Regions from separate parts of the Homo sapiens genome. Here regions 1, 2 and 4 are each linked to region 3. The links come from fine-mapping of genetic effects on gene expression. A gene starts in region 3. Each other region holds a variant in brackets. All regions are shown on one strand. Distances are from middle to middle.

Region 1 (2,690 bases), 84 kb before region 3:
TTATTGCATAGGGCAAAGCTAAATTTAAGTTTTTAAAAGTGAAATCAACTTACAGAAAATATTAAGTATATAGTGACACAGCTGATATCTAAATATGGCCACCAAAAAATTAAAAAGTGAAGATGGCATAGGAAAGGCCGACGTTTAAGAAACCCTTCCCTAACTGGGCCTGAATCTGGTTTTGCTCTCAAATGCACCCACTGCAATATTTATCCCTCACAAATATTCCTTCATGTAACATCAGTACTCAGAAACCCCAAATAGCTCCCGGCCAGCCTAATCTCACTTCCTCTACTGACAGTTCTCATTTCCCTAATTCTCTTTGCCGATTCCCCTCTGATTCCTCCCCACTGGGTCTCAGCCCTTTCTATCCCTTGAGCAAAACTTGCAAATATGCACCATCTTACCAGTGCTTAAAACCATCTTCCTCCCCTCTCTTCTCCACCAATCCACATACATTCCCTTCCCTGAGTAACGAAAGTTCAAAACCACCTACTTCTTCTACTTCTCATTCTTATCCATCTTGTGCCACACGTCCTTCATCAATCACATTAACTGTCTTTACTTGTGACTTTGCATTTATTCACATGTATGTTTCATCACTCCAATTACACTCTGAACTCAGCAAAGGCAAAGACTATGTCCTTGATGTTGTGTGAGGTCTCAGTCATCCTACAAGAGTAGGCTAAGCATATACCACAAGCACTAAACATATGTCCCATAATATGAGAAACCAAAGGCCAACATGCCAGAAAACATTTAACACTGGGTTCTCTCCTAGCTTGTCAAACATGAAACTTGGTTTAGGAAGCACCTGCTCACTACGTAATTCAAGTGGGGTTCTTACTGCACTCATCACAAAGACTGAGTTTTAATAGCTTTCCTGGACAATGAACCTGGCTCATCATAAGAATGCATCTTTAGGGTATTTTAATAAGAAAATTGTTCAATCTGGATTCATTCCTAATGCTTCTTTTAAAGAACTCACCTATGCCTTCAAATGAATTGAATGAATGGAGTCCAGAATTCCAAAATTCAGAAGGTTTTGGACTGAAAATTA[G/A]TTTTATTTATCATATGTTTTAAATAAATAAGAAATCATTTATCCTATATTAGGCTTCCTTTTCTCAATCTGTTAAGGGGTTCTCTGTCTTCATCTGAGCAAATATAGACCAGTGGTTACAAATACGGACTTTGGATTCAGTCAGATCTAAGTTAGACTCTCAACTCTACCATTCACCAGCTCCAGGACCTTGTGGAAATTTATTTACTCACATAGCAAACATTAATCGAAAGCTACCATGTGCCAGGCACTTTGACTGACCTCCCTAAGTCTCAGTGTTCTGAGAATGAGAATAACATTCCTTGACAGTAGAGGCATTGTCAGGACTTTTAATCTGTCAGAATTAAATATGATAATGTACGCAAAATGCCTGGCACTCTTCCAGGTTCATAGTAACAATAAATGTTAGTTATCACTGTCATTATCACCATCATCATCATCATCATTATCATTATCTTGAGTCGTTGTAGAGCCTTTAGTGCTGCTAATTAAGTTCCCCTTCTTAAAACTCTCTCCTCCCTTGACTTCACAGAGATATCATTGTACTGTTTTTAGTTTATTAATTTTTAAAATTTTGAAATTTGGTTTATAAATTTTTTAGTTTTAGTTTATTAAACTAACAAATAGAACTTTTTTTCAAAGAGTTAGAGGCATGATGCAGAGACTCCTAACAGTATGCTACAACAGAGGGTGCCCAGCAGGAGTGGGCGGTTAGAGAAAGATTCTTGGAGGACATGACATTTGGACTGAGATTTCAGAGGCGAGGAGAAGCCAGTCCTATGAAAATTGGGCAGAAGATAATCCTAGGAGAAAAAAAAAAAAGAGGTCCCGTAAAGGCCCTCAGATCAGGAGGAGCTTGTTTTATTCAAGGAAAGCAGAAAGAAGTGCAGCATAGGTTAGAGGAAGACGGCTCAAGACCAGCCTTGGAAAGGAGGTCAGCACAGCCAGCACTCAGGGTGCTGCAGGCCAGCACCAGAAAGCAGATTTTATGCCGAGTGGAAAGAGGAACCGATAGAGAATTTTAAGCTGCGGGTCAAGAGAAATCAGATTCATATTTTTAAAAGATCATTGTGGCTGTTCCACGGAGGATCAATTATTGGGAGCAAGGGTAGAAGAAAGGAGGCCGATAAAAAGGCTGTCAGCTCTCCACACAGGAAGATGCGTGGAATGAGGGTGGCAGGAGCAGAAATGGAGAGAAACAAACAGATTCTGGATGTGTTCTAGATATCGTATCAGGCAGGACTTGCTGGTGAGTGGAGAACAAAATGGCAGGGGTGGGAAACAGAGGACTCATGCAACATGCCCGTACTTTAAGCAACTATACAGATAGATGGCGGTGCCCATCAATGAGATGGGAAACTCATTCAATGAGATGACAAACTCTTGAGAGAAGCAAGTTTAGGATATACTCGGCATATAGATGATACAGAGGGACTGCTGAGATCACTCAGGAGAACCTACAGATCCTGACAAGAAGGACCTCAGGTCTAACTATTTGGGCATTCCACCAATTAGAGGTAGAGCAATGAGAAAGGAGTCAACAGGAAACAGGAGTGGCCAGAAAAGTTAAAAGAAAACCCAGAGCGGCCAGGCGCGGTGGCTTATGCCTGTAATCCCAGCACTTTGGGAG
Region 2 (2,690 bases), 200 kb after region 3:
AGAGACTCATTCCCATGAACTTTTCTTAGGAAATCTAATGGAGGATGAGCTTCAGACAAGTAAAAGCCTGTTGTCCTGAATTTACATTGGAAATGTTTCGGAACTCACAGTGTATTTTATATATAAATACATTTTTTTCTAGTTCTGTCTACTAGAAGGCATAGAAACATTCATCAACCCTTAGCATCATCTGTAGTTCCCAGATTGTGGTCTTGGAATACTTCCTATTTAAAAAACTAGGCTTCTTGGGCTGGGTGCAGTTGCTCACGCCTGTAATCCCAGCACTTTGGGAAGCCGAGGTGGGCAGATCACCTGAGGTCAGGAGTTCAAAAGCAGCCTGGCCAGTGTGGTGAAACCCCATCTCTACTAAAAATACAAAAAAATTAGCTGGGTGTTGTGGTGTGCGCCTGTAGTCCTAGCTACTCGGGAGGCTGAGCCAGGAGAATCGCTTGGATCCGGGAGGCGGAGGTTGCAGTGAGCCAAGATTGTGCCACCGTACTCCAGCCTGGGCAACAGAGTGAGATTCCGTCTCAAGAAAAAATAAAAATAAAAAAACAAAGAACTAGGCTTCTTGAGAAATGTCTTTTTCCAGGTCTGGGGCAGGAAATGTTAACATGATCCTGGAATGGCTCAACATCCCAGATAGCAAAGAAGCTGTCAATGAATGGTAGACCACGTCCAAAGGATGCAGGCGCCAACTTAGAGGTTTCCATTGGCCAAAAATGGAATTATTTGAGATTCAGTAGGTGTAAATATCGCGGTGAATTAAAGCCCATTTAAATCCACAATTTCATAATGACATTTTAAAAAAATAAGCTCTAACTAGTCACCTTCTGGAAGGTAGTAGATAATCATTCATTGTCTTGAAAACTGGGTAAATAAAATAATTGAACATTTATGCTGTCTTTTCTGTGAGAACGATACCACTGGGTAACCCCATAGGACAGGAGTTGGCATCTGTTGGAACCAAACCGTGCCTATTCATGTATGTATTGTCCGTGGCTACTTTCATACTACAGCCTTAGTTGAATAGTTGCAACAGACCATATAGCTTGCATAGCCTAAAATAGCCTAAAAGATTTGCCAACCTCTGATA[T/C]AGTAGATGAGAGAAACATTTTCTTTTAAAATGATTTCAGCTGATAAGAGAACAAGATGGTAGGATTAGAGTTATGCTTTTAAGAGTGAAAACCAGTTGTTTTGTGCCTCTTGATACAAAAGAACAGAACTTTTGTCTTGCCAAAAATGTAAACCTAAGTCATCAAGCTCCCAGTCCAGCAGTCAGTTTGCAAGAAGTTGCAGAGGCCAGAGGAGTATGTTGGTTGAGCTTCACCATGAGTGTGCAGCCGGAAAAATAGTGTTTGGGACACTGTGGGTTGAATAGCCTGAGAAATTGAGATTAAAAGGCAAATCAAAGGAAAATAAAAGGAGCAGGATTAAATTGTAGTGGCTAGGGATACCCAGTGTGTGTGAAATTATAAAGAACCTCTAGGCGTTAATATAAAAAGCACATAGTGGTTGCTTTTGAAGAGGACCGATAAAGATGGAGCACACAGAGAGGCTTCTGGGGTGGCAGATGACGTTCTCTCTTTTGACTTGGATGGTAGTCAGAAGGGTGTTTTGCCTTACAAAAATTCATTAAGCTATATGTTTGTGTGGTTTTCTATACTGTGTTTTAAAAGGGGATAATTGAAATGGTGTCAGGTACCTTTGCTGATGAGGAGTTTGGTATTACTAGATATATTCACAAGTGTGAAGTGATACTGCAAGCAACTGTTATCTGTTAATGTGGTTACTCACTGTTGTACGGTATAATCTGGGGCAGGTTTTTAAAATATAAACATGCACTCGTATTGGCATAAGTTGTTAATTTTTTTTCTTCTTTTGTTTGAGCAGATAGCATTCTCTCATTTCTCTGGTGTCTTTATTTTTACTAGCGCACCCACCTCATAATATGTGTACTTTTTGCTTTTTGTCTTGCCATCAGTCTGTCACTAGAAGTTTATTTTGCCGATCTTTTCAAAGACTTAACAACATTATTCTGGCTTTATTGATTTTTTTTTTTTTTTGGTGTTTTTGTTTTCTATTTCATTGACTTGTGCTTTTTTTTTATTTTTTTTTTTTAAGAGGCGAGGTCTCACTGTCACCTAGGCTAGAGTACAGTGGCACAATTGTAGCTCACTGCAACCTCAAATGCCTGGGCTCAAATGATCCTCCCACCTCAGGGACCATAGGCACACGCCACCACGCCCAGCTAATGTTTAAGTTTTTTTGTAAAGATGGAGTCTCACTATGTTGCCCAGGCTGGTCTGGAACTCCTGAGCTCAAGCAGCCCTCTTGCCTCAGCCTCCCAAAGTGCTAGGTTTACAGGTGTGAGCCACTGCACCTGGCCCGACTTCTCTTTTAATTTATCCTTCCATATTTTAAAAATTATTTACCTCAGGCTGTCTTCTTCTCAAATGTAAGCATTTGAGAAGAATACATATGACAGGTTTTAATTCATCATGTTTTCATTATCAGAGTGTCTTTAATTTCCATTATAATTTTCATCATTGAAAGTGTGTTTTCTATACAGTATTTGGAAGTGGTATGTGTTTTTGTCTTTTAATCCTTTTTATTATAGACACCTGACTTAATTGCATTGTGGTTAGATAATGTAATTTTTACAATGCATAGTTTTTGAAAATTGTTAA
Region 3 (2,690 bases):
TTATGGTTTCTAGGGCATGACTCCCTAGACACCTTAGATAGGAATTTGGGCAAGATAAAAAAATTAGAGCTTAGTCCTCAACTCTACAGAAGAAAATGACATTTACCCAGGAATGGGCATTGCAATAGGAATATGCGTGCCATGGCAAACTGTTTGCATATTCAAGGAATTAAAGGAAAAAAAAGTTTTTTTAAAAAATAAAAAAAGGAGAGGATTACATAATTGTTTTGAGGTAATTAGCCTTGGCTCCAAGCATCAATAACAAGGGTGATGTCAGTTCAAGGTTGGACAGACAATTGCTGGACAGATGTCCTCATAGAAGTATCTTTTTGGGTAAGGTGGAGGTCTTTGTGCAAGGTTGTGGTTTTCGCAGTATTTTGTGATAGTTTTATTATCAGGCATTCATGGATGAGAACTCTCCTTCATGGCCTTCTCCAGTTCCACTTGTCAGGTTTTCTAACACATGTGACTCTATTTTTGATTCTGACAACTTTCACAATCTACATTAGAAAAGAGAAAACTGGGGCTCAGAAAGTTTTAGAAACTAATTCAAGATCAAGCTGGTAAGTAGCAAAAAATTTAGAATTAAGTTCTACATATCTGGTTCCAAAACCAGGACTCTTTTCATTACAGCAGTGGTTCTCAACAGAGTTGCGATTTTGCCCCCCAGGGAATATTTCACAATGTCTGGAGACATTTATGACTGTCAGGATTGGAGGTGGAGTGGGTGGGGTCTGCTTCTGAGAAGCTACTTGCTTCTAGTAAACGGAGGACAGGGATGCTACAAAACAGTTCATAGGGACAGCACCCCCACAACAGAGAATTATACAACCAGCCCAAAATGTCAATGGACATTTGGGCTGAGAAGTCTTACATGACAGAATGCTTCCTACCCTGATCTGACGTTATTTCCAAGGATTCAAAGGTAACTGCTTCAAAATTAAACAAATTATAGAAAGCCATCAATAAATCAACCCCTTATTCATGTTGCAGCTCTCTTCCATTATAAATAAAAATGGATTGAAACTTACGATAAAAGGGAGGCAGGGACAGGAGCGGGGAAGCTTGGCGAGCAGAAAGGAAATTCAAACTTATTATTAAGGTTAAGAATTAAGATGTAAATATGTAGATGTTTTTCACCCCTAGGATTTTCACTAATCCAAAAGTTCACGGACTGCTTTGAAATTTAATTATTTGGAACTGGTTAAATGTTACCCTGACCTCAGCTAACATTTGTGTTTCACTTTTCTCCGGGACCCAGGGGACGTGGATGCCAGATGAGTCCACCTCCTCTCCCTGCTCTTCCCGCAGGGACAGAGCCTGCCAGGTGCTGGTGACTCGGATCCTGACAGGAGGTCGCTCTGCGGAAGACTGGCAGGATCCCAGAGCAACAGACTGGGGCTCGATGCCCCTTCCCCGCCAGGTCTCTCCGTCCGCAACTGTCCTCCTAGTACCGGGTATCCCGCAGGCGGGGCTGCGGAACGCACGTCCCCTGCGCCGTGACGTCACAATAGCGACTCACTGGACCCAGCCCTTAGCAACGGCCTGGCAACGGTTTCCCTGCTGCTGCAGCCCCCGTCGGCTCCTCTTTTCCAGTCCTCCACTGCCGGGGCTGGGCCCGGCCGCGGGAAGGACCGAAGGGGATACAGCGTGTCCCTGCGGCGGCTGCAAGAGGACTAAGCATGGATGGCAGCCGGAGAGGTAAAGGGCAGCTGTCAGGGGCTACCGCCGCCTCGCCCCTCGCTCCAGGCGGCGCTCCCAGCCTCGGGTCCGGGCAGCTGAGTGCAAGGCCGCCCCTTGGGGCGCTTCCTACCCCTGGCTGAGTCGCCAGTGTTGCCTGGAGCTGCCCAGGCCTGCGCAAAGGAAGAGGGAGAGCCTGCTTGCCAGCCTCGCAGGTCCGCTTCTTTGCCCTGAATTTGTCGCCCTGACACCAGGGGCCCCTGTCTCCTGAACTCAGGGTCGTGCAGCCTTTAAAACCTCAGTAGCTCCCAGGCAGAGGAACCAGGTTTGGTCTTTGGAGTCAGACCTCCCCGGGCCCCAAATCAAACCCCTCTGCTCTCCATGGAGACGACCCTCAGTTTTCTTATCTCTTGAACGTGAGGGTCAAATACCCAGGCCATGGAGTTCTTGAGGATTAAATGCAGATAATATAGAGAAGATCCTGGCGCATTTGAAGTGGTCAGTAAATACGAAATCTCCCAGTAACGAACTACCTCCCCCAAAGCTACTGAGTAACCCAGGGTTTCTGTAACTTTCTGTGAATAGGAATCCCCTCAGGGTCATGTTAAAATGCAGATTATGATTCAGTAGGTCCCTTGGGGGTGGCTGAGATTTTGCATTTATAATAAATTCCAAGTAATGCGGTGTTGCTGGTCAGCGGACTGCAGTTTTAGCAGCAATCCGTACTCACCATATACACCTGTTCTCTACTGATTTCTTGAGTCAGGTGGACATCATGTGGTGGGGTTGGGGGTGGGGAAATACAATCTTAAATATCTACAAATCGGCCCAAACCAAATAATTTGCATTTTCACACTTTCTGAGCCAGTATCATTCTTTCCTCGAGTCAAATGAGGCAATCTTTATAGACTCCCCGCCCCTCCCAATTCAGTGTTTTTATCTATTTAAAAGACTGCCTTTAAACCAAGCTGCTAGATGATTCCTTGATGTCTTTCTTTGAATGAGTCTGC
Region 4 (2,690 bases), 22 kb before region 3:
AAAATCATTTTTCTATTATTTTAGGTAGCACATGCATAAGAGAGTGAACACGCCTAAGGACAAGTCACTGAAATAATTGTCTTCCTGCCTATTTCCTGATTTAGTGGAATGAGCACGAAATCAAGAGTCATAAAGACCAATTGTGTGGGCTAATTACTTATCTTTTCTGGGCTCCATAGCTTTTTCTGCAAAATTAGAACTTTTGCTTAGCAATCACCAGCATCCTCCTAGCCCCTAAATTTTCTGACAAACAAGGGAAAATATTTGCTTACCTCCAGCCTTGTGTACAAACTGAATTAAAGAGTGTCGGAACATCACTTCTTCTACCTTGTTCAGATATTGTACAGAAACATTCACTCTGCATCTTATAAATAACACAGAGGAAGTCTTTCTGTACCCAGATCACCACCAAACTTTCTATCTTGACTGTGCTTTCACTGTGGGAAATATTAATAGCTCCTGTGTTCATTGTGACCTCAATGTTATCATAATCTCAGGTTGCCTATAGGTATAAACTTCAGTGAATACTTAACGTTACAGAATGATAGGCTGTTTTCATAACACATTTTCACACTGTTGGATAATTTAGATTTTGTTTAAAAACATAATGAACACTAAGAAGTTGTTTGCAGACAAGGAAATGGAAGACTTCAAAGAGGATAAGAGAAATCTCACATTTAATTCAATTAAGTCAGAGAATGAACATGTCTAAGGATGTCAAGAACCACCCTCCCACCTCCATTTTCTAAGATTACTTACTCAAATATTCTAAAGAAATAATTAATTTAGTCTAAATTAAATCTAAGTTTCTAATAGTGTTCTTCAAATACTTCAAACTACTAGGTAGAACCAAGTGATATTGTCTAATTGACAATTTTTTATTTATAAAACAGCAATTTCATGTCATTCAATCTAATAATTTAGAGTGTTTCTGTATATTGCAGGCAGACATCTAACAAGACAAAGAACTAAAGTGTGACTGGAGTGGAGACTGAAATCCCTTAGAAAGACTAGGCAAAGTATCAATAAAGAATGGTTTTCATTGGTAGCTTACATAAATCATGGCTTTTAAAAATTGATTTGTGCGTGGCAGTTTGTGAATAGTAGATGCACTTATAAGAGCTTTTCAAAAATTC[T/A]TTAACTGTTAAAACTTCAGATTCTATTTTTTTAAGTGGAAAAGATATTATCAGGATAGATGAACAGATTGGTTAAGCTTTTTGTTTTGCTTTGTTTTTCATGGTGAAGCCACTTGTAAACAGAGAATGCATTCGGTGGAGATTATCAAAGCTTTAGGGTGAGCATCCTCCCAAATGTACTGTTGTGGAGATTGATTGACAGTGGAAGAATAGATGGAATGCTCTTCTTAAGCTATGGGGACAGGTTACCTAGTAACCACTGAATGATTAAGTTCTGTTCACAGAGACTTGTTCTGTTAATTGGACGAAAAGATTTAAAGAGCGCAGCTGGGGAGAAATGGAAAGATGGAGGACCGTGGCCATTATTAGTGGACCTGACCAGCAGCCTTAGCCAAATTGTCACAATATGAGTGAATCTTCTGTTAGTACAAAGAAGTCAGTGAAGCTACCTACAGAGTCACAATTTTGTGCACTTTTTAACTGTAGGAAAAATGAAAATAAGGTGTGGAATTACACATATTAAAAAGTGCAGTGAAAACTGTGCGGTGTTATAGTTCTGAGAATGATCATTTTCTGTGGACAAGATTATATTTGTGTTCAGATATCAGAGTTCTATTATTTAAGAGAACTCAAAATAGGCACTTGGGGTCAGTATATCCTATCACAACTCTCTTCGGTCTAATACCATCAGGCACATACTGCTTTATAGAGAATTGTGGTCACCTCTGTTCTCTCCTGCTTTTAACAATAAAATTAAGAAAAGTCAAGGTATAGATTGGTAATAATGACATTTTTCATTCATTAAGGATTAAGAAAAAGCAAGGTATAGTTTGGTAATAATGACATTTTTTATTCATTAAGGATTTTTAGATGATAGAGTACTTTTTGCCTATGCTCAAAAAAGAACTCAGTATTTATATTTTAGAAAGGAAAAAGTATCTAAGACAAGTCTCAATCAATTTAGAGATTTATTTTGCCAAGGTTAAGGGTCATGACCTATGACACAGCCTCAGGAGGTCCTAAGGACATGTGCCCAAGGTGGCTGGGTTATAGCTTGATTTTATGCATTTTAGGGAGACAGAAGTTACAGGTAAAGACATAAATCAATACATGTAAGGTATATATTGGTGTAGCCAGGAAAGGTGGGACATCTTGAAGGTGGGGGTTAGGCTTCTAAGTCATAGGTGGATTTAAAATTTTCCTGATTGGCAATTGGTTGAAAGGGGTAAGCTCTGCCTGAAGAGTTGAAATCAGCTTGAGTGAAGGTAACTGGGGAGGGGTGGGTTGTGGAAACCAAGGTTTTTGTCATGTAGATGAAGCCTCCAAGTAGGAGAATTCAGAGACAATAGATGTGAATGTTTCCTATGGAACTTTAAAGGTCGGTCAGACTATTCAGAAAGACCTAGTAAAGGAAGGAGATTCTCTACAGAATGCAAATTTCCCTCACAAGAGACAGCTTTGCAGGACCATCTCAAAATATATCAAATAAATATATTTTGGGGTAAAATACTTTCGCTTTCTTCAGGGCCTACTATCTGTCACGTGATGCTATAC

Alleles and levels. Alleles are on the strand shown, and positions count from the first base shown. SD is a standard deviation of normalised expression in the study named. Not every link is listed here.
For the expression in liver of the gene that starts at base 1,521 in region 3, T is the high allele of the variant in region 4 and A is the other (moderate effect, 0.44 SD a copy in GTEx).

The links. PIP is the estimated chance that this variant, and not a neighbour inherited with it, causes the effect. A credible set is the group of variants that fine-mapping cannot tell apart.
Region 1: its variant is the best candidate, but not a certain one, in a credible set for the expression of SPATA7 in putamen (GTEx, PIP 0.51).
Region 2: its variant is the best candidate, but not a certain one, in a credible set for the expression of SPATA7 in whole blood (TOPMed, PIP 0.85).
Region 4: its variant is the best candidate, but not a certain one, in a credible set for the expression of SPATA7 in liver (GTEx, PIP 0.59).

Annotation. Positions count from the first base shown.
Region 1 is chr14:88,299,783-88,302,472 of GRCh38, forward strand. The region is part of intron 1 of KCNK10 (potassium two pore domain channel subfamily K member 10); the gene reads right to left. Among named protein-coding and RNA genes, the nearest start is that of KCNK10, 22 kb to the right of the region's middle. The variant G/A (reference allele first, on the strand shown) is at 1,061.
Region 2 is chr14:88,581,029-88,583,718 of GRCh38, forward strand. The region is part of intron 9 of ZC3H14 (zinc finger CCCH-type containing 14); the gene reads left to right. Among named protein-coding and RNA genes, the nearest start is that of ZC3H14, 19 kb to the left of the region's middle. The variant T/C (reference allele first, on the strand shown) is at 1,097.
Region 3 is chr14:88,384,137-88,386,826 of GRCh38, forward strand. It overlaps SPATA7 (spermatogenesis associated 7), which reads left to right and starts at 1,521. Exons shown (of 12, transcript NM_018418.5): 1 at 1,521-1,701. The coding sequence starts at 1,683. RefSeq lists enhancers at 1,204-1,283, 1,314-1,383, 1,394-1,713.
Region 4 is chr14:88,362,495-88,365,184 of GRCh38, forward strand. No RefSeq gene overlaps it. Among named protein-coding and RNA genes, the nearest start is that of SPATA7, 22 kb to the right of the region's middle. RefSeq lists an enhancer at 2,127-2,690 and a silencer at 2,271-2,565. The variant T/A (reference allele first, on the strand shown) is at 1,137.